Homo sapiens: one gene and its partners. The protein of the gene in region 3 purifies or fractionates together with the protein of the main gene of each other region. This does not show direct contact. Each region holds a gene or a part of one and is shown on either strand. Other genes may lie near its edges.

Region 1 (7,023 bases), about 34 Mb from region 3:
GTATTTTTAGTAGAGGCGGGGTTTCACCATGTTGGCTAGGCTGGTCTCAAACTCCTGACCTCAGGTGATGCACCCGCCTCAACCTCCCAAAGTGCTGGGATTACAGGGGTGAGCCACCGCGCCCCCAGCCACTTTCCTCCCTTTCACTTCCCATATTTAAGCCTTTACTAAGTCTGTAAATTTTACCTTCTAAATATCTATCAATTCTACCCATTTCTTACCATCAGCATAGCCCAAACTGTTACCATTTCTTCTCTTTACCAATTACCTCAGCCTCTCATTAATTCAGCCCCCTTCCCACAAACACACAGCGAGAGGGATCCTTTCAAAACGAATGTATGTCATCCTCCTGTTACAAACCCTTTAGTAGCTATAAGACCCTTTGTGGTCTGGCTGCTCCCTACCTCTCAGCTTTATGTTTTACCACTTGTCCCCTCATTCTATCCCTTGGGGTAAATTGGACCTTTTTCATTCCCGATACTCGCCAGTCTCCCCTTTTCTCCAGGGTCTTTGCACATGCTGTTCTCTCAACCTGGAATGCTACCCCCCCACACCCCCCTTACTTTCAGTTAACTTCTAATTGTCTTTTAGATCCCATTTTATGCTTCTTCAGAGAGCCATTTCCCATCCTCCCTGACTAAATTATGTCTTCTTTAAATCTGTTTTTTGTTTTTTAAAGAGACAGGGTCTCCCTCTGTTGTGTAGACTGGAGTGCAGAGGCATGATCGTGGCTCACTGCAGCCTTGATCTTCTGGGCTAAGGAGATCCTCCGGCATCAGTCTCCCCAGTAGCTGGGACCGCAGGCATGTACCACCATGCCCAACTAAGGTTTTTTTTTTTTTTTTTTTTTTTTTTCTTTTTTTTGTAGAGACGAGGTCTCCCTATGTTGCTCAGGCTGGTCTCAAACTCCTGGCCTCAAGCGATGCTCCTGCCTTAGCCTTCCAAAGTGCTGAGATTACAGGCTTCAGCCACCATGCAGGGCCTATCTTTATTTTTTTTTAAAGATGGAGTCTTGCTCTGTCACCCAGGCTGGAGTGCAGCGGTGCAGTCTTTGCTCACTGCAACCTCCGCCTCTAGAGTTCAAGCAATTCTCCTGCCTTAGCCTCCTGAGTAGCTGTGATTACAGATGTGTGCCACCAAGCCCGGCTAACTTTTGTATTTTTAGTAGAACCTGGCTGGTCTCGAACTCCTGCCCTCAAGTCATTTAGCCCCCCAAAGTGCTGGGATTACAGGTGTGAGCCACTGTGCCAGGCCAGGCCCATATTCTTTAAATCTTTTTGTATTACTATGTAACTTCCTAGTGGCAGCTATTACAGTTGCAGTTTTGTATTTGTTTATGTGATTGGTTAGTAGCCCCATCAGAGCAGGTACTGTCTTAATTGCATTCCCAGTTCCATGCATAACACCTGGCTTACCTCTGCCCTTTCATACCATTCTTCCCTATGCAAGCACAGTCACCCCTCCTCCCTTCTTAGGACTTAACCTGTTTCTTCTGCCCAGACTCATTGCTTTGATTTCCTGCTCTCTCACAGCTAGTTTTTTAGATGTTACCTCCTCAGAGAAACCGTCTGTACTCAAAAGTAAGGTAGCTAGTACTTAGAGTAATTCCCCCGTCCCCACCAATATCACCCTGTTTATTTCCTTTATCATGAGCTATAATTATTATGTACGTGTTTTATATATATATGTCTCTTTCCACTAGAGTTTAAGCTTCCTGTGAGGAGAGGCTTTGTTTGTCTTGTTCTTTGGGGTAACCCTCGCCCCTAACAGTGCTTATGGTAGGCATTCAATAAAATTTTTTTTTCCACATCAGATGGGTCATGTGCTGACTTTTCACAAAGTTTGAGAGAGACACATCTCACACATGAGTATGAAAACCCAATCATCATGCTTATGAACTAAGAAGGGTAGAATCTTTGGATTAATGAACACCTCGTTAGAGCAAGATTCTAATTTAATCAGATTCGCCTGACTGAAAAATCCATGTTCTTAACCTATTATTTTTTGATTGCTCAAAATAATACTAACAGCATTATATCAAAATTAACTGTGTAATATATGCATTGTTCTATGCACTTTTACATGTATTAACTCATTTAATCCTCATTTTACACATGAAGAAACAATAGCACAGAGAGGCAAAGTAACTTGCTTAAGGTAGCATGCAAGAAAGTGTCAGGACCAAGATTCAAACATAGCTAGTCTCAATCTAGAACCTGTTTTCTTAACCACTATGCTATCCTGCATCTAGAAAAAGGAAAGAAGGACCGGTTGCGGTGGCTCACGCCTATAATCCCAGCACTTTGGGAGGCCGAGCCGGGTGGTCACCTGAGGTCAGGAGTTCGAGACCAGCCTGGCCAACATGGCGAAACCCTGTCTCTACTAAAAATACAAAAATTAGCTGCGTATGGTGGCATGCACCTGTAATCCTAGCTACCTGGAAGGCTGAGGTGGGGAGAATTTCTTGAACCCGGGAGGTGGAGGTTGCAGTGAGCTGAGATTGCGCCACCGCACTCCAACCTGGGTGACAGAGTGAGACTCCATTTCAAAAAAAGAAAAAGAAAAAAGAAAACGAAAAAGAAAAAAAAGGTTAAAGGTGATTGGTCAGAATCCCCAAGATATGGTTCCTGCCTTCGTGGAGCAGGAGTGGATATTCTTATGGCCTATATACCTCTTCCTTCAGATCTCTGCTTAAGCATCACCTTTCATAGAAGCTCATCATGAACACCTTATATACAAATAGTTTTCCTTCCCTCCATCCCCACCCTGCGTATTCTTCTTCTTCTGCTTTATTTTTTCCAGAGTGCTTATCATTACTCGATAGCTGTTTTTGTTTGCCTCCCATCACTAGAATGTACATTCCATGAGAGCAGGGACTTTGACTATTTTGCTTGCTGTTGTATTCCCATTGCCTAGAGCAGGTAGGGACTGGCATGCCATCAGTACTCTACATATTCAGTGAGTGAATGGTTACTACTTTTTCTCAAATGCACTGCATATCTTTTGGTACACAGATGTGTGTATTGTCTACTATTGCTGCTTTACAGTTGTGTTTCATTGTTTGAGACTTTTTAGCAAGATTTTATGTCATTCACCCCCATGACTTTACTGCCTTTTGTCATTAAGCTTCATTTGCCATGCAGAAGCTTTTATGGTGTCCTGTTAACTATTCTTCACATCTGGGCAAGAGAGTAGAGTGAAAGTAAGTGTCTTTAATGCTAATAGGTGTCTGTTTCACAAGTCTCTTACACAGACCTGTGGAGGAAAAAGTCAGTTGAGGTTTAGTGATCAGAGATGCATAGTGTTTAAGGATCTGAGATGAAGTGTTTCATAACTGCCATACTTTATCTGTTGCTTCTCATTTTAAGTCTGTTATCCATTTATATGAGATGTAAATCATAGCTGCTTTTGTTAAATAGCAAGGAGGATTAATCCGTCCTCTCTGATTTTTGTTCCTAGTTCATGTTCTTTTTTATTTAATCCCCTGAGATCATCCTTAATTATTATTTTTCAGATGACTTGGACTTTGCAATGTATACATCCAATTCTGAGATTTTTAAATTTAGTGCTTTCTCACTCTCAAAAAGCTTCTTTCTCTATTGGTTTGTTTTTTTTTTTTTTTTGGACATGGAGTCTCACTCTGTCACCCAGGCTGGATGGAGTGCAGTGGCGCAATCTTTGCTCACTGCAAGCTCTGCCTTGTGGGCTCACGCCATTCTCCCACCTCAGCCTCCCGAGTAGCTGGGACTACAGGTGCTCGCCACCACACCCAGTTAATTTTTTGTGTTTTTAGTAGAGACGGGTTTTCACCGTGTTAGCCAAGATGGTCTTGATCTCCTGACCTTGTGATCCGCCCACCTCGGCCTCCCAAAGTGCTGGGATTACAGGCGTGAGCCACCGCACCCGGCCTCTCTATTGATTTTTCTACTTTCCCTACCCATAGATCCTATAATTCATTCACACCAGAACCTGTAGCCTGATGTTTCTCAAAGTGGGTTACCTGCAACAGAATCCCCTGTTGTTTATTAATAATATAGATTCAGTCTAGATTTTGCATGTATGAGGAGCTTCCTTGTTATTCTAATGTCTTTTTTATTTTTTTGAGGCAGAGTCGTACTCTGTCTGTCAGGCTGAAGTGCAGTGGCACGGTCACAGCTCACTGCCGCCTCAACCTCCCAGGCTCCAGCAGGCCTCTCACATCAGCCCCCTGAGTAGCTGACACTTTAGGCACGTGCCCCCATACCCAGTGAATTAAAAACATTTTTTTAGAGACAGGATCTCCTTATGTTGCCCAGGCTGGTCTCAGACTCCTGGCCTCAAGCTAGCCTTCCCACCTTGGCCTTCCAAAGCACTGGGATTACAGGTGTCAGCCATCATACCTGGCCTCTAATGTACACTGGAGTTTGTTTTATCCAGTGGACCCCTCCAACTTTATTCTAGCCCCTCTTGGCCATTCTGTATTCCCTTTTCCAGCTTAGATCTTGAAGTATCACATATACCTGCATTCTAGACTTTCAAGGGACTTATTGCTTGCTCTGACAGTCCCTGAATCATTTCCATTGCCTGTTTTTTTCCACTCCATTACTACATCAGTCTTTGCCTCAATGGATGTCGGTTCCCTTTCTCTTTTCTTCCAGCACCACAGCACGCCTGGATGAGGATCCAAAATTACCTCTGTCCCCACTCTTCCTCTTTCTTCTGTTTCTTCACTTTCTTCTCCTGGAATGGTCTCCAGTTCTCACAACTTCAGCAAGACTCTCATATGTCTCTCTCCAGTTCTTTCTTTATCTGAGTTCTGGTTTATAGTTTGAATTGTCTGCCAGATATTTCGAATTGCACATTCCACCATCTCTTCAAACTCAACATTACTAAAACTAAATGGATCACTTTTACCCCCAAACCAAGGTCTTTTTCTCTCACTTTGGTTATGAAATAATTATTGATTTGTTTTATTTTTAATTGCAGGCTCTTCAGCAAAAGCCCTTGTCAGTTTAAAAGGTAAGAAGTATAGCATTTTTAGGTATACCATAGCTAAAAGTCTAATTTGTTAAATTAATCTGGATATAGTGTTTCCATTTTCCTTCTAAGTTATGATTCATTGTAGCTTTTCAGTATTGGTTTTCACTGATAACCTTAAATTAATATGCTTTTATAGGAGAATTGATCCTCAGTTGTTAGAAATTATTTTTAAAAATTTCTAAAATTATTGATTAAAAACCTTTCTAATTAAACATTCCATAAATATTTAGATTAAAAGCATTTGTTAAACGACTGTGCTGACCTATATGTTAGCATAATTGTTTGTTTGTTTGTTTTTGAGACAGTCTCTCTCTGTTGCCCAGGCTGGAGTACAACGGTGCAATCTTGGCTCACTGCAACCTCTGCGTCCCAGGCTCAAGCGATTCTCCTGCCTCAGCCCCCTGAGTAGCTGGGATTACAGGCATGTGCCACCATGCCTGGCTAATTTTTGTAATTTCAGTAGAGACGGGATTTCACCATGTTGGCCAGGCTGGCCTCAAACTCCTGGCCTCAAGTGATCTGCCCACCTTGGCCTCCCAAAGTGCTGGGATTACAGGCGTGAGCCACTGTGCCCAGCAGATTTTTTGTTTATTTATTTTTTGAGACAGGGTCTCGCTTTGTCACACAGGCTAGAGTGTGGTGATGTGATTACAGTTCACTGTAGCCTCGACCTCCTGGGCTCAAGTGATCCTCTTGCCTCAGCTTCCCATGTAGCTGGGACCACAGGCACATGCTACCATGCCCAGCTAATTTCTTTATTTTTTGTAGAGAGGAGGCCTCACTTTGTTGCCCAGGCTGGTCTCGAACTCCTGGGCTCAAGGGATCCTGCTGCCTCAGCTTTGCAAAGTGCTGAGATTACAGGCATGAGCCACCACACCTGGCCCGTAATAGCTTATTTTTAAGAGTCTTGCTTTCACTGGGCACGGTGGCTCACGCCTGTAATCCCGGCACTTTGGGAGGCTGAGGCAGGCGGACCACTTGAGCTCAGGAGTTCGTGATTAGCCTGGCTAACAAGGTGAAACCCCATCTCTACTAAAAATACAAAATTATCCGGGAGTGGTGGCAGGTGCCTATAATCCCAGCTACTTGAGAGGCTGAGGCAGGAGAATTGTTTGAACCTGGGAGGCAGAGATTGCCGTAAGCCAAGATCGCGCCACCACACTCCAGTCTGGGAGTCTGGGTGACAGAGTAAGACTCTGTCTCAAATTCCAAAAAAAAAAAAAAAGAATCTTGCTTTCTAAGTAATAATGTCTTGAAATAAAAATAAAAGAATAATAGTACTTTTCTCATTCTAAGAAAAAGTTTGACATGTTCCTTGGTCTCACTATTTCTTTTGGCAGGTACATTAGACTAACCTTTTTAACATAGTTTCTTTAAAATTTTACCTCTTGATTAAGATTCTGGTAGGTCAATAAATTTGGAACCAAGCTAAATATTCTCAAAGTACTTTTAGTCTTTAAAGCTACTATATTGTGCTTTGGATTGGTGATTTACCAAATTAAATCCTTCTAGCTTGAGAAGACAATTTGTCTTCCAGAACACCCCAGTTTGTTTGTCTTTTGTGATTCTTAAAAATTATTCCATTATTCTTTTTCTCCCAATATTAAACTCATTTCTCTCCCCCCTGCCTTTTTTTTTTTTTTTTTTGAGACTGAGTCTCGGTTTGTCGCCCAGGCTGGAGTGCAGTGGCACAATATCTTGGCTCACTGCAACCTCTGCCTCCTGGGTCAAGTGATTCTTGTGCCTCAGCCTCCTGAGTAGCTGGGACTGCAGGCATGCATCACCACACCTGGCTAATTTTTGTATTTTTAATAGAGATGGGTTTTCATCATGTTGGCCAGGCTGGTCTTGAACTCCTGACCTCAGGTGATCCTCCCACTTTGGCCTCCCAATGTGCTGGGATTACAGATGTGAGCCACTGCACCCGGCACTCATTCATCTTGATAAATCATTTATATAAGTAACGTACATTTCTTATGGAAAAAATGAGAAAATGCTGATGAG
Region 2 (7,938 bases), about 32 Mb from region 3:
TAAATGAACATTTGCATGATGAAAAAAAGTTTTCATTTTCCAAATTCCAGGTCAAATACTTCTTATATGCCCTCTACGTTCTTCTGTGATTTTTATCAGTCTCTCACCTTTTGGACATTTCTATACTTCAATTTATTCCAATTCAATTCAACTCATATTTTTCAATTATAGATAGCACATTCTAATTTTTACCATGGGACCTGGATACAAATTTTGGCATTCTCTCCACCCCTGCTTCCCAAACATAGGCTTGTCCAGTTTTACTCATTGAGGCCTCTGGAGTCAGGCAGCTATGTGAGCGCAGAGAAATTGCTAAACTACTCTGTGCCCCTTTCCTCATTTATAAAGTTGTAATGGTACCAATAATACATACATTTCTTATAGGGTTGGTGTGAAAATGAAATGACTGACACACATAAAGCATTTAGAACAGTGCCTGGTATATGGCAAGTATGCAGTATATACCAGTATTATTCACTCAACAAATATTTGTGGACAGGCTCTCAGTACAGACACAGTGTCAGGTGCTGGGCAGTGGCTGTTGTTCATTTTGTTTTCCCCACACCTTGCACCCTTGCACAGTGGCTGCCACATCATGTGTCCTTAATAGTTGCTGAATGGGATCATTCAAAGTCAAATCTATGGATTAAACCAATTAGCCCTGATACTCTGATTTCCAGTCCAGTGAGGGAGACAGTGAAAGTGACAGCATCACATCACAGTATTAATATTTTTGAGAAATAGAAGTGCCTAGATTGACATCTTGGGATAGAATGGGCCACTGAACACGCAAGGTTAGGCCAAGTCTAGAACCCACGCACTTGTCCCTCACCTTCCCCCAAAGTGTGTGAAGGGGGTGCAGAGGAACTGCATGGAGGAATAAAAAAAACTCATTGACATAAGGTCATCAATTATAACAAATGTACCATCCTGGTGGGGGATATTGATAATAGGGGAGGCTATGTATGTATGGGGCAGAGGGCATATGGGAAATCTCTGTTCTTTCTGCCCAACTTTGCTGTGAACCTAAAACTGCTCTAAAAAATAAAGTCTATTAAAACAAATCTCATCGGGGGAAATGAAAAATTCACTTTACTTGGGGAAGGGACATGTGGACTTTTTGATTTTTACAATTCTGACTGGGAATTAGAAGTTGAGCTGAGTAGAAATGAGAATGGGAGTGGATGCCAGTTTTACAAGAATCAAGCTTCTTGCTTGGGCAAATCTGTCATGACTAACCTGCCCCATTTGCAAAGCATTTCTGTCTGGGTTTTATTGGGGCTTCACAAAAGGGTGTGTATTTAAAAATAAAAACACTGAAAAACTTTTGTGAAGATTCAAAGAAGAAAACATGCAATGAAGTGAGCAGCCTCCGATTGGATAGACTTGCCTTGTGGGGCTGGGTTGCTTCTCCCTGACCGGCGACTTCCAAAGCCTCAATAAGACGAGCTATTGGTCAGCAGTGCCTAAGATGCTATGGGCCAGGCTGGCCAAGAGGCTAGCAAGCACAGAGATGGAAAAGTCCAGTTCACAGTTCAGCACCATCACTCCATCACACCTTACAGTCACCAAGAGGTGCTCCAGAAATGGTGCAGTCACAAATTGGTTGCAACAACGGAGGCTTGGCTTTCCCTGTGACCACTTAAAGTGGCTCGATTTGGTTTTCTGAGCCCCGAGCTCAGTTCTTCCTCCCCTAGACCTTGGGAAGTACGAGCCATGGATCTGCAGATTCCAAAAGAAAGTGGGCTGAGCAAGCCCTGTTCGTCTGGCTGTCTGGTAAAAGACACATCCATTGTGCAGCACCCCCACATCCCTGGCATATCACGGTGCTTTTCCTGGAAAAGTCCATATTGGATTTGCGGTCTTGAAAACCCCAAGCTTAAAACACCCTGGGCCTCAGGATTTCCCCCCGTGTCCGTAATGCCACCTCTTCTACTCCAGGCTACCTCCCACAGTCTAAACAAATAAGCAGAAGGAGATTCTCACCCCACTCACACAGGCAGTCCAAAGTCCACTTCTTGCTTGGCTTTTTCTTTCTCAAATACCTTTTCTCATAGCCCTGATACTTCTAAACAGAAAGCAATAGCCTGCCTTGGGAAGAAGATAGACAGAAAGACAGGAACAGAGTCCAGATCCAAAGGTAGCTCTTGTCTGGCCTTCCTGCTGGAGCTACTCTCTGAGGGTTCCCAATTTGCATTTCCCACATACTGTAACCAGCCCTAGCCTTCAGAAATCCCAACTTCTTCCCTCTTGCTTTCTTGGACCTTCTCTTCCAAGAAAATACACACCAGTATGACCGCACTGTGGCCACTGCTGGTTCTCAGCCAAAAGCCTGGAGTTTTCACTTCTACTCTCTCTTCCCACTCTAGCCAATGCTTTCTGTTGACCCATGCTCCTGGTTTGTCAGCCTGCATGTGCACAGATTCCCTCCCAGGGCAGGGATGTAGGGCAAATCTTCTCCCAGAGCTCAGTCCATCCAGCTCAGTCTCTCTAGGCTGGGTCTTTGCCAGAAGATGCCCATGTAAAACCAACCACTCAAGCAAGACTTCTACCAGGGCCTGTCACCCTAAGACTGGTCAGAAAAGTGACTGGAGCCTTTGGCTTAGAGCCCCTCATTTCCTTGGAAACTGGGGTTGGTGGGGCTGAGTCTTGGAAACCCAAGGGCCCAGGAACTTATAATGTTCCTTCCTCTTTGAAAGAGGCAGTTGAAACTGACAGCCAGTCCCTAAGGAAGAGTGACCAAACACAATACCCAGCCCTGCACCTTCTCTCCATCCACGAAGATACGCTGATTCCTGGCAGCTAACATGGGACTCAAACCATCAGGCAGATGAACACTCACCTGTTCCGTAGCTTGCCCCAAAAGCCAGGGAGAGAAACAGCACGAAGGTCAAGGAGAGGAGCCCCTTGGGATCCATCAGCCAATGAGGAGAAGGAAGGGATCCTGGCCGGAGCCTGGCAGCTGCTCACAGATGCCAGGCAGAAGCAAGCTTCGTGTCATGCAGCAGAGGCTGTCTGATTTATGTATCAGGAACCAGCAGGTTCCTGAACCCGCTTCCTGTATCACTGGGACTTTTTCTGCTTGTGTCTTGAGGATTGCTCATCTCCCATGAGGCTTTAAATCACTTTTTTGTTCTCAAGAAGCAGGCTTCTCAAGAAGCCAGGCACTTAGCCTATGGGAGCCAGGAAAGGGGGTGTGTAGTCACCTCGGCCAAAACCCGGCTTTGGGCAGAAACATGCGCCCCAGCTTCTTTCCTTAGCTGTCTCCAGGAACCGGATGTTGCAGATTCTCTGAGCAGTTCTCTCCGGTAAGTCTTCTTGGATTGCAAAGAAAAGATGTTTCATTGGATCACTCCTCAAATTTGGCAGTTCACAGCTGAACTTAGATAACTGCATTTTGATGAGCTAATAGACCTCTTACTTCTGTTTTATTTCATAATTTCAGATGACACCTCAACATGCAGTCTGGTGCAGGTGCCACTGTCACACAGAGATGGGAAGGGCATGTGCGGGTCACTTGGAAGAAACCCTGTGACCCCGATGAGTGCAATGTGGTATAATTTAGTAGCCCATGCTCCTAGTTTGTCTTCTTGCATGTGTGTGGATTCCCTCCCAGGCAGGGATGTAGGACAAATCTATCCCAGAGCTCCATCCTTCCAGCTCAGTCTCCTTGTTGTGTGTGTGTTTTCTCCTCTAATTTTTAACGTCTGTGGGTACATAGTAGATATACATATATGTGTGTGTGTGTGTGTGTGTGTGTGTGTGTGTGTGTGTGTGTGTATGTATATATATATGTATGGGGTATGCATATATTTGTATGGGGTATATGAGATATGTTGATAGAGGCATGCAATATGTAATAATCACACAGGGTAAATGGGATATCCATCACCTCAAATATTTATCCTTTGTGTTACAAACAGTGCAATTATATTTTTATTTTTAAATGTGCAATTAAATTATTATTGACTATAGTCACACTGTTGTATTATCAAATACTAGTTCTTATTCATTCTTTCTATTTTTTTGTACCCATTAACCATCCCCACTTCTTCCCCAACCCCCACTACCCTTCAGCCTCTGGTAACCATCCTTCTACTCTCTATGCCCACAAGTTCAATTGTTTTAATTTTTACCTCTCACAAGCAAGTGAGAACGTGCAAAGTTTGTCTGTCTGTGCCTGGCTTATTTCACGTAACATAATGATCTTCAATTCCATCCATGTCATTGTGAATGACAGGATCTAATTCTTTTTTAGCTGAATAGTACTTCATTGTGTATATGTACCACATTTTCTTTATCCACTCATCGGTGATAGACGCTTAGGTCGCTTCCAACCTTGGCTATTGTGAATAGTGCTGTAATAAACATGGGAGTACAGATATCTCTTCAATATACTGATTTCTTTTCTTTTAGGTGTATACCTACCAGTGAGATTGTGGATCATATGGTAGCTCTATTTTTAGTTTTTTGAGGAACCTTCAAACCATTCTCCACAGTGGTTGTACTAACTTATATTCCCAACAACAGTGTACAAGGGTACTTTTTCTCCACATCCTTGTCAGCATTTGTTATTACCTGTCTTTTGGATAAAAGCCATTTTAATTTAATTGGGGCTGTGTTGTATTCTGGGAGTTGCCTTTATTTTGGAGTTTGTGTCTAACTTTTCATTGAGGAGAAGGAACTAGTATTGGCAGAAGGAGGATCCCGCCCTTTTTCATGAGTTAAACTATAAGAATGGGATACTGGAAGTGTAACCAATGCTCACAGGGAGACTTGAAAGAGTAGGGAAGTGTTTTTAGAGTCCATTGTAACAGGTCATAGGCACTCTCTGATGGGCCTCCCCATGGGGATCAGGTAATAAAAGCTGGTGAGATATGTGAACTTTATCCTCACTGTTTTCTTCCTTCCTTTCCCCAGCACTCAACTGTCCTCCTCACAACTATTCCCAGTGGTGTGTGCTCGAGTCAGCATGTACCAACTCATAAAATTGTTAAATTTTCAGGAATCTGGATGGGCACAGTGGCACGCCTGTAACCCCACCATTTGTGGAGGCCTAGGTGGGAGAATTTTTGAGGCCAAGAGTTTGAAAATAGTCTGGGCGATAGAGTGAGACCTCATGTCTACAAACAATTTTTTTTAATAAAAATAAAAAATAGATTTTCAGGAATCTTGTGAGGTGCTTGATGAACATGGCCATTATTAAACATATAAAATTAAATTAAATTATATAAACTTACAGTTAAGCTGGGCATGGTGGTACATGCCTGTAGTCCCAGGTACTTGAGAGGCTGAAGCATGAGGACCCCTTGAGCCCAAGAGTTTGAGGCTGTAGTATCTTTATAGCAGTGTGAAAACGGACTATCATGATCATGCCTGTTGGTGTGGTTTGCCGCTGTGTCCCCACCCAAATTTTATCTCGAATTGTAATCCCCATAATCCCCAAGTGTTGAGAAAGGGACAAGGTGGGAGGTGATTGGATCATGGGGGCAGTTTCCCCTCCATGCCGGTCTTAAGACAGTGAGTGAGTTCTCACAAGATTGGATGGTTTTATAAGGCAGTATTTTCTGCTCTTGGCTGCTCTTCTCTCTCCTACTGTGATGTGAAGAAGGTCCTTGCTTCTCCTTTGCCTTCCACCATGATTGTAAGTTTCCTGGGGCCTCCTTAGCCATGTGGAACTGCAAGTCGATTAAACCTTTTTCCTTTATAAATTACCCAGTCTTGGGTAGTATCTTTATAGCAGTGTGAGAGTGGACTAATACACCTGTAAATAGCCGCTGCACTCCAGCCTGGGCAACAGAGCAAAACCCTGCCTTTAAAAAAAACTTCACAACTAAATAAATTATATTAAATAGAGGGAATAAAATCTCAAAGCTCATTGTTTCTTAATTATTTTATGACATTACTGATATCTATGTTCTTGAGGTAATTGACATCTCTTATGTGTCTACAGTGGAAATTAAATACTGGAACATTGGTGCTTCTGGACCTCTCTTCCCCACTCTGCATTCAATGGCATAGTGTTGGGAGCTTGAAACTGGCCATGGTGAGAGTTTATGCCATGGAAATCAGCAAGCAATATAAATCAGAACTTTACTGTTTTGTTGATTGTCTAAATGTAAGAAAGTAATAGAGAAAACATAATGATGCAGAGTAAACTTAAACATGTGCCATGACTATGGCCCTTACATTAGGATTAGCATAAAAAATTGAGGAAACATTTTTCCAGTATTCAAAAACTATCATCTGATTCAGCAAAAAGTCACTAGTGTCACTGATGAGCAAGTGATGTTCCAACATATGTTTTTGTTGTTTCACATTTCTTTAACTTCAAAAAAGACATTAACCAACATTCATGTTGGAACTACATTCCTTTGTCACTTGTAAACACAGTTTGGCTGTGGATATGAATTAAGCCAATATGAAAGCAAACAGCCTGTGAGATCTGTGGCTATATGGAATTTACAATAAAGAGGATTGTACATTTTATTAAAATACAATAAATTTTATTTTATAAATTGCGTGTTACACATTCTTCGTATAAGCAAAATTTATAACAAGCTCATTTACATATATGCATATATTATTTTTCAGAGATCTGGCTCTTAACCATTTACCAACACACCACTGTTACAATAACTGAGAATCCAAATGGTGGAGTGAATGGCATACTGTCTACGTATTCATAAAATATCAGTTGAAATAACTAAATGATGTGAGAATATTGGCATCCTGTAAAAATGGGAAACCAATGATCCAGGTCTGATTTCAAGACTGGTGTTCTCTCCTCAAGCTGCACGGCTCCTGGAATGCATGCTGTCTATTCATGTCAAACCTTCCTCTCTCAAAGACAGACACTTATTCTCTTGTTTACTTTGCCCTTCCTCTCATTTCCAGAATTAGACCTTCTCTAGACTCGCTATGAGGCCTCTCCACTCTGATCTCCTGGATCCCCTCTACACAGATAACTGAGCTAATGCTAGGCACTATATGAAGAGTTTTCCTGTTTGGTGCAATCTAGAACTAAATAAAAACATACATTGAATGAGGGTCAGAAATGGTTTAGATGAAGGTTCTGAGGTTCTAGAGTGGATTCTATATAGAGTCCTCTCTGCCCCCAAATTCTTCTTCACCTGGAACGTCAGAATGTGGACTTATTTGGAATCAGGATCTTTCAGATGTAATTAAGGTAAGAATTGAGATGAGATTATACTGGGTGAATCAGAGTGATCCCCAAATCCAATGAGAGTAGTGCATCTTTCTAAGAAATAGAAAAAGGACACACAGAGACACAAAGAAGATGGCCATGTGAAAAGACAAAGCAGAGACTAGAGCTATGCAGCCACAATTCAACGAACACCAGAGACCACCAGACGCTGGAAGAGGCAGAGAAAGATTCTCCCCTTGAGCTTTCAGAAGGAGCAGGTCTTGCCAATATGTTAATTTTAGACCTTGTGCCTACAGAACGGTGGGAGAATGAATTTCTGTTGTTTTAAGTCATCAGGCTTGTGATAATTTTTTACAGCAGCCACAGGAAACTAATACAGGACCTGAGGGGCAATGTGACTAACCAGAGATTTGCAGTTAGTACATTTAGTATACTGAGCTGCTTCCTTGAGCTATTAAGAGCAGATGTCAACAGACCAACAACAGAAGATATACAGGTGATAGTGCCTTGTAGTTACAAAGCCATTTTCAAAAGCCTTCACATTCACAGCCTTATTTGATCCTCCTAACAGCCCTGCAAAGGAGCTGGTGGTGTTTGTAAGGCAGGATCTGGACCAAACTTGGGAATCCTGACACTGATCAGAGCTCTTTCCTTTTTCCTGGTGAGTATCACCATGAATACTCAAGAGAATAAGGAGGAAGGAAATCTTGCTATTGAACTCCCTGGATGCCTGGGGTTTCCACAGTGTTACTTCATTGATCTTGGTAGCA
Region 3 (7,433 bases):
CCAAAGTAGGTTTCTGAAGCTTCTGGGATTGCAATTTTTAAAATTCTTTGCCTTTTCTACAAAACTAAACTTGTTTTATCTAATCTTATTTGCATTATCATATCTTTCAGAGGTTTTAAGATATAGTGTCATAATCCTAAAGAAAAACATTTGCCTTGTATTTTATTCTAGTTCCTTGTTTGACTAAGTCACAAGGACACCATTGTTTAAATTTGCATGCCTCATAAAAATATATATTTGTGTAAATTATACTTACAAAGCATCTCCAGATATATCTCATTAACCACTACACAAATTATAGGTTACAAAAAGGTTACAGTCAGAGAGGCAGAACTACTTCTTAGGAAAGTATGAGATATGGGAAGCTTGTACAATATAATCCTTCCCAAACTTCACCCTATAATTTTTATCTAAGTGAAAATTGGTTAAAATGAACATTAGGGTAGTTTTTAGCTTGGATAAATCCTGTTGGGAAAAAAAAACTATATCCATCTATTCTTTGAATATTTATTGAGCATCTACTACATCAGTCTGAATGCTATGTCCACATATGCATTTGAAGCATGAATGAGAAAAGTGGGAGACTCCTTTGGTAAAGCAGGGAGAAGGAATGCAGGCTAATTCTGAGCTCTGCGCTCTTTTAGTCTCTCCTATCAGCTGACTGAGGTACCTATTTCTTTTAAAATGTTCCCTGCCTCTGATTCACTACCTAGCCATCTACTGCCCTCAATCACCAGACACCACGTAAGTCCTGAGGATAGATTTGTTTCAAGAATAAGACAAAAAGTATTTCAATGGTGATCTACAGAAAAACCATTTTAATTTCTGTGATAAGAAAAAAAAAACCGGAAATGTGGCACAAGTATGTTTGTTCTGTACTTCTATAGTAGAAAATTTATATACTTTGCACATGGCAGAACAGGACAGGCTTATCTAAACAATAAGGGATAGTGAGTTGATTAGGTGATTGGAAACAGGCTTCAGCTTTGCAACTGCACATCAGTGGGCCTTGTATGTTCAAAGCATTCCGCATCTAAAGAAGCAAACGATGCTTTCCATCTGTGATAACAAGGAAATGCTAAAGTTCCAATTTCCTTGACATTTTATTGCATTTACTTTTATCTAAAATGAGTATATAACATTATCTTATATAAAAGGAAAGCATGGTAGACGAGACATATCTTGAAAATCTTCTCTCTACCAGACATCCAGAAATGCTAAAAAAAAATATGTAACAACCCCATTTAAATGCATAGGCAAGCTTGCCAAAACTAAGAGAAATCAAGAAAAAAACAGAGGGAATCCTAAATCAGAGTGATAAACTGGCATTTAAAGTTTAGCTGAGTTCAGCATTTGCTAATCTCAGTAACCTAGAGATCTGGCTTTTAAGATCTGTTGCAAGCCAGGAAACAAAATCAAAGGCTGTCCTAATATGAGCCGGGGGCTCTTGAACTGCTATACCTTCAGTGAAACAGCAGACAGAAAAAAAACAAGTCACCTACAAAAATTGATGACAGGAACATGTCTATTTCAGCATAAAACCAGGTCTGTAATTTAAATTTACCCTACCTGTGTGGTCCAGGAGACCCAAGCTAAGAAAATAACAAAGCAGTCTTGTGTTAGAGAAGTGCCTGGGCTGCCTGACAGAGCCAGTGCAAATCCTCTTCAAAGGGACGTGCCCTTAACCCCATCCTTAGAGAATTTCACAGATCAAACAATGTGAAAGTACAAAAGAGCTAATAGACTCATCTCAGTGCAAATTAAACAACTGTGGAGTGTCTCCTTTTTTTTTTCCGGGAAAAGAACACTTTCCTATGTTAATGTTACCCCAAATACACTGGTGGAAACAATAAGATTTGAATGAATTCCCCAGAATTTAGTCAGGAAGGACAAGACAATCCACCAAGTGCTCAGAAGAAAATAGAAACCAAGTAGGACCACTGGTTTTTTCAATTACATGCTGGAGATCTGAAACCTGAGAGCACTGCCGACTTTCTGGAAGGGCCAAGAGAATGGATTTAAAGCAGCTACCAAAAGGGAACTAAGAATGATTGGGAGTTAGTGACTAAACTTTATAGCATAACAGGACCATGATTATAATTAAAGACATCTTTAAAGCAAATCATCTGAATAAATGCACACAGAATTGGTAACTAACTTTAATTGCTACTGAGGTTTATTTTATGCTAACAATAGTGTTCAATGCTCAGTAATCTCTTCCTAATTTTTGTTGTCGGTATATTTTGGGTTCACACAAGTCAGAAACCAAAGTTAGATTGTTTCTAATTGGCAGCAAACCAGAGGGGACGGGAGACTGGTCAAGTCTCTGAGTCGTCCACTCCAAGATGCGGACAATGAGTGTATGAAGACAGACTGAGAATGCGCTGCAAAGAAGCTTGGAAGAAAATGAAGGCAGAGAGGACAGACCTGAAAGGCTAAGAGGGACAGATCAGCGTCCATGGAAAGCAGGAGCAGAAGCCAGTCTTCTTCCAAACACTGGCACAAACCACTGCCTACTGGATACATTTCACCAGACAATTCACCCCAGTGTCCAAGAGTTTATCTTGCTTCTAGAATATATTGAAAAGAGCCACCCTCTGAACAAATGGCAAACACTATATAGTATAAATAGGATGCACTGAAAATAGTAGGCTTATTTCTTAAGCTGTCATCACGAACATTAACCAGTAATTATATTTCTCCACTTTTTGTAGAAGACATAAATGGCAAATTCTGAATTTATAATTTCTAATACTTCATTTTTCTGCTCTTGTAAAGTTCATTTTGAACTTTCAACATAAAAATATTAAAGATTTTTAATTGTGCACATTTGAACTTGTGTTACTTTGGACTTACATTGGCTGAAATTGAAATATAGTAAAAGTGCTCTAGAGTAAGCAGATCAGTTCATCAGAAGGACAGCCTTTCAATGGAAAGGGCATTCCCAAGCTGCACCAACGAAAGCATAATCCTGTTACCTGCCCTAACCTGACAGCTCTGAATTAGTCTGATCCACCTATGTGCCGTACAAAGCATTATATTGCTATGATTTCATAAACTGAACTTGAACTACACTTTTTCAGAGAAACAAAACCATGTTTAGAAATCTGCCACAAATATCTACACATTGCTCTTGAATTCCTCCAGGAATTTCCACCTACTCGTGCTGTTACTCTTCACTCTATGATTTATTTGTTTTTCAGTCCCTGTCGATACTTAAGTTTTACTCTGTAGGGAGATTCTCATGTTTGACTCCATTAAACAAGCTTTGAAACTGACACTCGCACAGGGTGTTACTTCCAGAATCTTCCTGCCAGCTCCTTGCATCCACACCATGAGAAAGAGCAAACATTCCAAATCCCAAAAAAATGAATTATTTGGGGTGAGGAAAAGTCTTGACTATGACACTGAAGATTTCCTGAAGAGATCCAGCATCCAAAATGTCCTGAGTGGGGAGGAAATCGCACACCTAGCACCCAGAGAAAATGAGTGCTATCCACAAACAACCCAGATCCTCCCAAGCTGAGGCTAACCTGCCCTTCACTTCCTACATTATTGCTACATCTACGCAGCTTCTGACTTTCCAAAGTTTCCTTTCCTTTTCTAGTCCCAAACTTATCTCTCAGGTTTGAGAAATTCAATTTTCTTGGGTTTGAATCTCAAAATTATAAAAGACAAGTAAGGTTAATCTTCTATCTCATTGGGCCCCTAAATATTTTAAGAAACACTCCATCAACCACATTTTGATCTTCTTTACTGCTGTTTTATTCTAGCATTTCTTTACTCCTACCTCTCTGTTTCTCTCTCTCTCTCTCCCCCCAAACCCCCCAACTCCCCCACCCCTCCCCACACACACACACAATTGGAGTAAATCCAGGACAAGGGCATTCACAATCTTACCATATTCTGTATTCATTAGACCTTATCTTAAGCACTGTGTTCAATTCAGATTTTGAAGGCATGTTAACAAACTGTAGAACAACGGAGTCCAGAACTGCTGTAGAGGACCAGTTGAAGGAACTAGAGAGGTATAACTAGAAAAGATACTTTTTTAGATCCTTCAGTTGTTAAAAGTCCCTAGTAATCTATTACAAACAGATTGATTTTAATAGTTCTCAACCATTTGCTAACATGTGTTTGCAGTGATGTCCTATGTGTTTGTACTCAGTTCTCTGTCTTTTTTAAAAGGGAATTTTACTTTAGACTATACATTTTCTAAAACTAGAAAAATTATTTTGGAGAAAAAGATTTGAGTATTACTTTGAAGATTTCATGAAGCTGCTGCTTCCAATCATCTGATCACTTCAGATGGTCTGATAATGTTAGATAAAACCTCTTTATCAGTAATGCACTGGAGTCCTACAGCACTACTTTCCATATTCAACAAAACCTCTCTTTGCATAGATACGTGTGTGTAAAAACAGAACATTCATACTGAGGCCAGAGTGCCATCGAAGGTAATTATAGAGACAGTAAAATCCTTTTACTCTGGGAAAAATAAAATGCTGGGTGTCTCACAAAATTTCAGAACCTGATTTCAAACGGATCATAACAAAGAGGAGATCAAATTTAGCATGGTGGACTGCTCGACAGGATATATTTGTAAGTATGAGATTCTATAAAATAGTTGATAAATACAAGACTATTGGCTTGCTATAAATCACTAGCAGATGCTGATTTCAATGGTAGAACTTCTGGGAGTGTTAACAGAGGTTTTTCTAAGAAAAAAAGACAAACTAACAAACACATATTCTTTTGCCTGGCTTTCTATATTTAAAACAAAACTTAGAGTCACTCCTTATATAAATAAATCTTCTAAGTTGGGCAACAGAGGAAATGCTACAGTTTTAAAGTATATTATTTCATTTTATGTTTTTGTGTATATTTTCATTTTAAATGTTTTTCATTTTATATGTTTAGATAAAAACATATTATAAAATCAGACATAGCTGAATTATTTGTTTCAAAAATCATGCATTACCAAATTATTAGTTCCATCCTTTGTTAACTGTACTGAAGCCAGGTGTGGATTATTATAAGGTTTATCTGAAACATTGTTAATCTTGATTTTGTAGAATTTTTTTATTCTTTTATGTTATGCTTAAGCACAACTATGCACAAATTTCTTGAATTTTTTAAAGGACAAGAAATTTGTGTGCTGTGGTCAACAAAAGCTCACTAAAATATAAATTGCTCCAAATTTTACTAAATTTTATGTAACATGCTATATCATAAAATAAAGAAACATATTTAAATGCAGATATATGTAAACAGACAGAATTGCTTTAAGAAAATTTATTTATTTTCATAATACTTTAAGATTTCATTTAAATAATGGAGGAAACAAATCTAATTCTGGCATACTACTAATACAACTCAATCCATTACCAATGCATTTATAATCACTCTGAGAATTAGATTCTATCGGTGAAATGTATTTCTTTCAAATAATTATCAGGAGAAAACAGTGGAGGCAAAATCATCGTGGAGACCTAAACTTGTTCTAAACACTCTATGTTTCGATTGTAAAAGTACACACTAGTTTTACCAAGAGGGTATTGAAAAACAAAAAAGGAAAGCAAATTAATACACAATATTAAGATAAATATAGATTATTTAAATAAAAAGTAATGGAAAATTACAAATTAAAACAGTAAAGAAATTTTTATAATAAGCCATGATATTAACACAATTTTAGATAAAGAGTTAATAAATAAAAATGGGAATAACCATAATCCAGCATTTCCGAGGTGGAAAAAGTATTTACTTAAAACTTAAGAGCATTTACAGTAATCTTTGCCAAATATGCATTCTCCAGGAAGCACACAATAATCTTTTTGTTTTTGTTTGGTTTTGTTATTATTTTATTTTTAGGTCAATGGAATGTTTCCACATATTATACCACCAACATGAGAAAAAAATGATCATTGTTTATTTGAAGCTTGGTGAGTTTATCCACAATTTAAATCAGTTCTACGTCATGCCAATTTAGATCACTGTTTCACTGGGAATTCTCTTTTTGCCAAAGTAGATTTGTAGTTCTATAAAATATTTAAAGTTATTTTTTATTTTTATCCATATTGACTACTTGAACTCTAATTTTAAGGGTACAACTAAAGATGCCCTTGGTTGGATTTAACTAACAAAATAAATTTATCAATAGGATGTTTTAATCAAATCCTTATCCTAAAGAACTTTACTTTTGTAAAAAATTAGAACATTCCCTTTATGGAATTACCAAGGATATTTCTTAGAAGTTCTCAATTGTAAATGTGAGAGGATTTCATTCTGCCACTCTATATTGGTGCTATTAAACTGTCGATTGAGATGTATTATTTAATGATAAATATTGTTGAATGTAGGATTGTAGATACTTCTTTTTAAACCAATGGTTATTTTGCAAATTCTTTGTCCTCAGACTGTGAATTATATTTTCTTATTTTATCAGATGATATTCTAACGCTGCCTTTTCTCTTCTCATTTTAGAGGTATGAGAATTTTAATTTCTACTTCTGAGCATCTGCCTTCCATCTTCCAAAATTACTTTGGAATATTTTGTCATTATTTTTCCCCTTGGTTAATCTCCTTTTTCCTTCAGTTTAAGCCGTACATGTTCCTTTACTATAATATTATTAGTGTTTGGGTTGGAAGAGATAATAAACTCAGGTGGTCAATCTGACCTTTTGTACCTGAAGCTGGGTTAAGTATTTTTTAATTTATCTCTTTGTTTCAATGTAGAGAGTGTTATAAGGATGGGGGTGGGGGGTTCTGTGATATTCCAACAAAATAGTGGTACATGGTACGTGTGAATCCAGTAGTAATCAATAGAGAGAAACACAAACATGTGGATGGACTTTCAGTCCCAGAAATCTTAGAATACAGGCGGGAAGGCACCAGGCTCCAGGCACAGGAGCAGAACTCTAGTCACTGGAACAGCGTCCAGTCTCCAGTTCCATTTCCTAAAGGACAGGAATACCAGAGAACTTCTTATAGTCTATTTATTCTATGCATAACAACTCTTAGGGTCTATTTATTCTATGCATAACACATGTCATACACAATTCTGTCACTAAATATTTTCTGCAATTTAATCATTGATGCTTTTATGACATTATATTCTATTTGTATTCCATAATTTAATAAATCTGTAAATGTTTGACTTAGAATGCTAACCAACATATAAACAACTACTTATATGTAATCATCAAATAACATTCGAATGTAACAATTTAGGAAACTTAAAGTCTAGTAGGAGTAGATAAATCAGAAATATAAATAACATTATATCTATATATATTGCTTCTTTTTCAATGTCACCTAACTAATAAGTTGCTTGGACCAAAGAACCCTCACTGAATCAGTCATGTAGCTGAGCACAGGGCTACTATTAGTGTACACAGAGTCTTTGCTGGAATTATTAAAAAGTAGCCTTT

The links.
Region 1: the proteins of RGS13 (region 3) and LIN9 purify together in Homo sapiens (affinity purification with mass spectrometry; 2 studies listed by BioGRID and IntAct, with this or other methods). This does not show direct contact.
Region 2: the proteins of RGS13 (region 3) and SLAMF1 purify together in Homo sapiens (affinity purification with mass spectrometry; 2 studies listed by BioGRID and IntAct, with this or other methods). This does not show direct contact.

What each region holds. Positions count from the first base shown.
Region 1 is NC_000001.11:226,299,148-226,306,170, reverse strand, and holds part of LIN9 (protein lin-9 homolog), read left to right. Parts: intron 1-1,807; exon of another isoform or gene 1,808-1,909; intron 1,910-4,965; coding exon 4,966-4,998; intron 4,999-7,023. UniProt on the Homo sapiens protein: Acts as a tumor suppressor. Inhibits DNA synthesis. Its ability to inhibit oncogenic transformation is mediated through its association with RB1. Plays a role in the expression of genes required for the G1/S transition.
Region 2 is NC_000001.11:160,644,028-160,651,965, forward strand, and holds the start of SLAMF1 (signaling lymphocytic activation molecule isoform b precursor), read right to left. Parts: upstream 3,018-7,938; 5' UTR 2,919-3,017; coding exon 2,843-2,918; intron 1-2,842.
Region 3 is NC_000001.11:192,631,716-192,639,148, forward strand, and holds the start of RGS13 (regulator of G-protein signaling 13), read left to right. Parts: upstream 1-4,431; 5' UTR 4,432-4,602; intron 4,603-5,874; 5' UTR 5,875-5,945; intron 5,946-6,448; 5' UTR 6,449-6,488; intron 6,489-7,433. UniProt on the Homo sapiens protein: Inhibits signal transduction by increasing the GTPase activity of G protein alpha subunits thereby driving them into their inactive GDP-bound form. Binds to both G(i)-alpha and G(q)-alpha.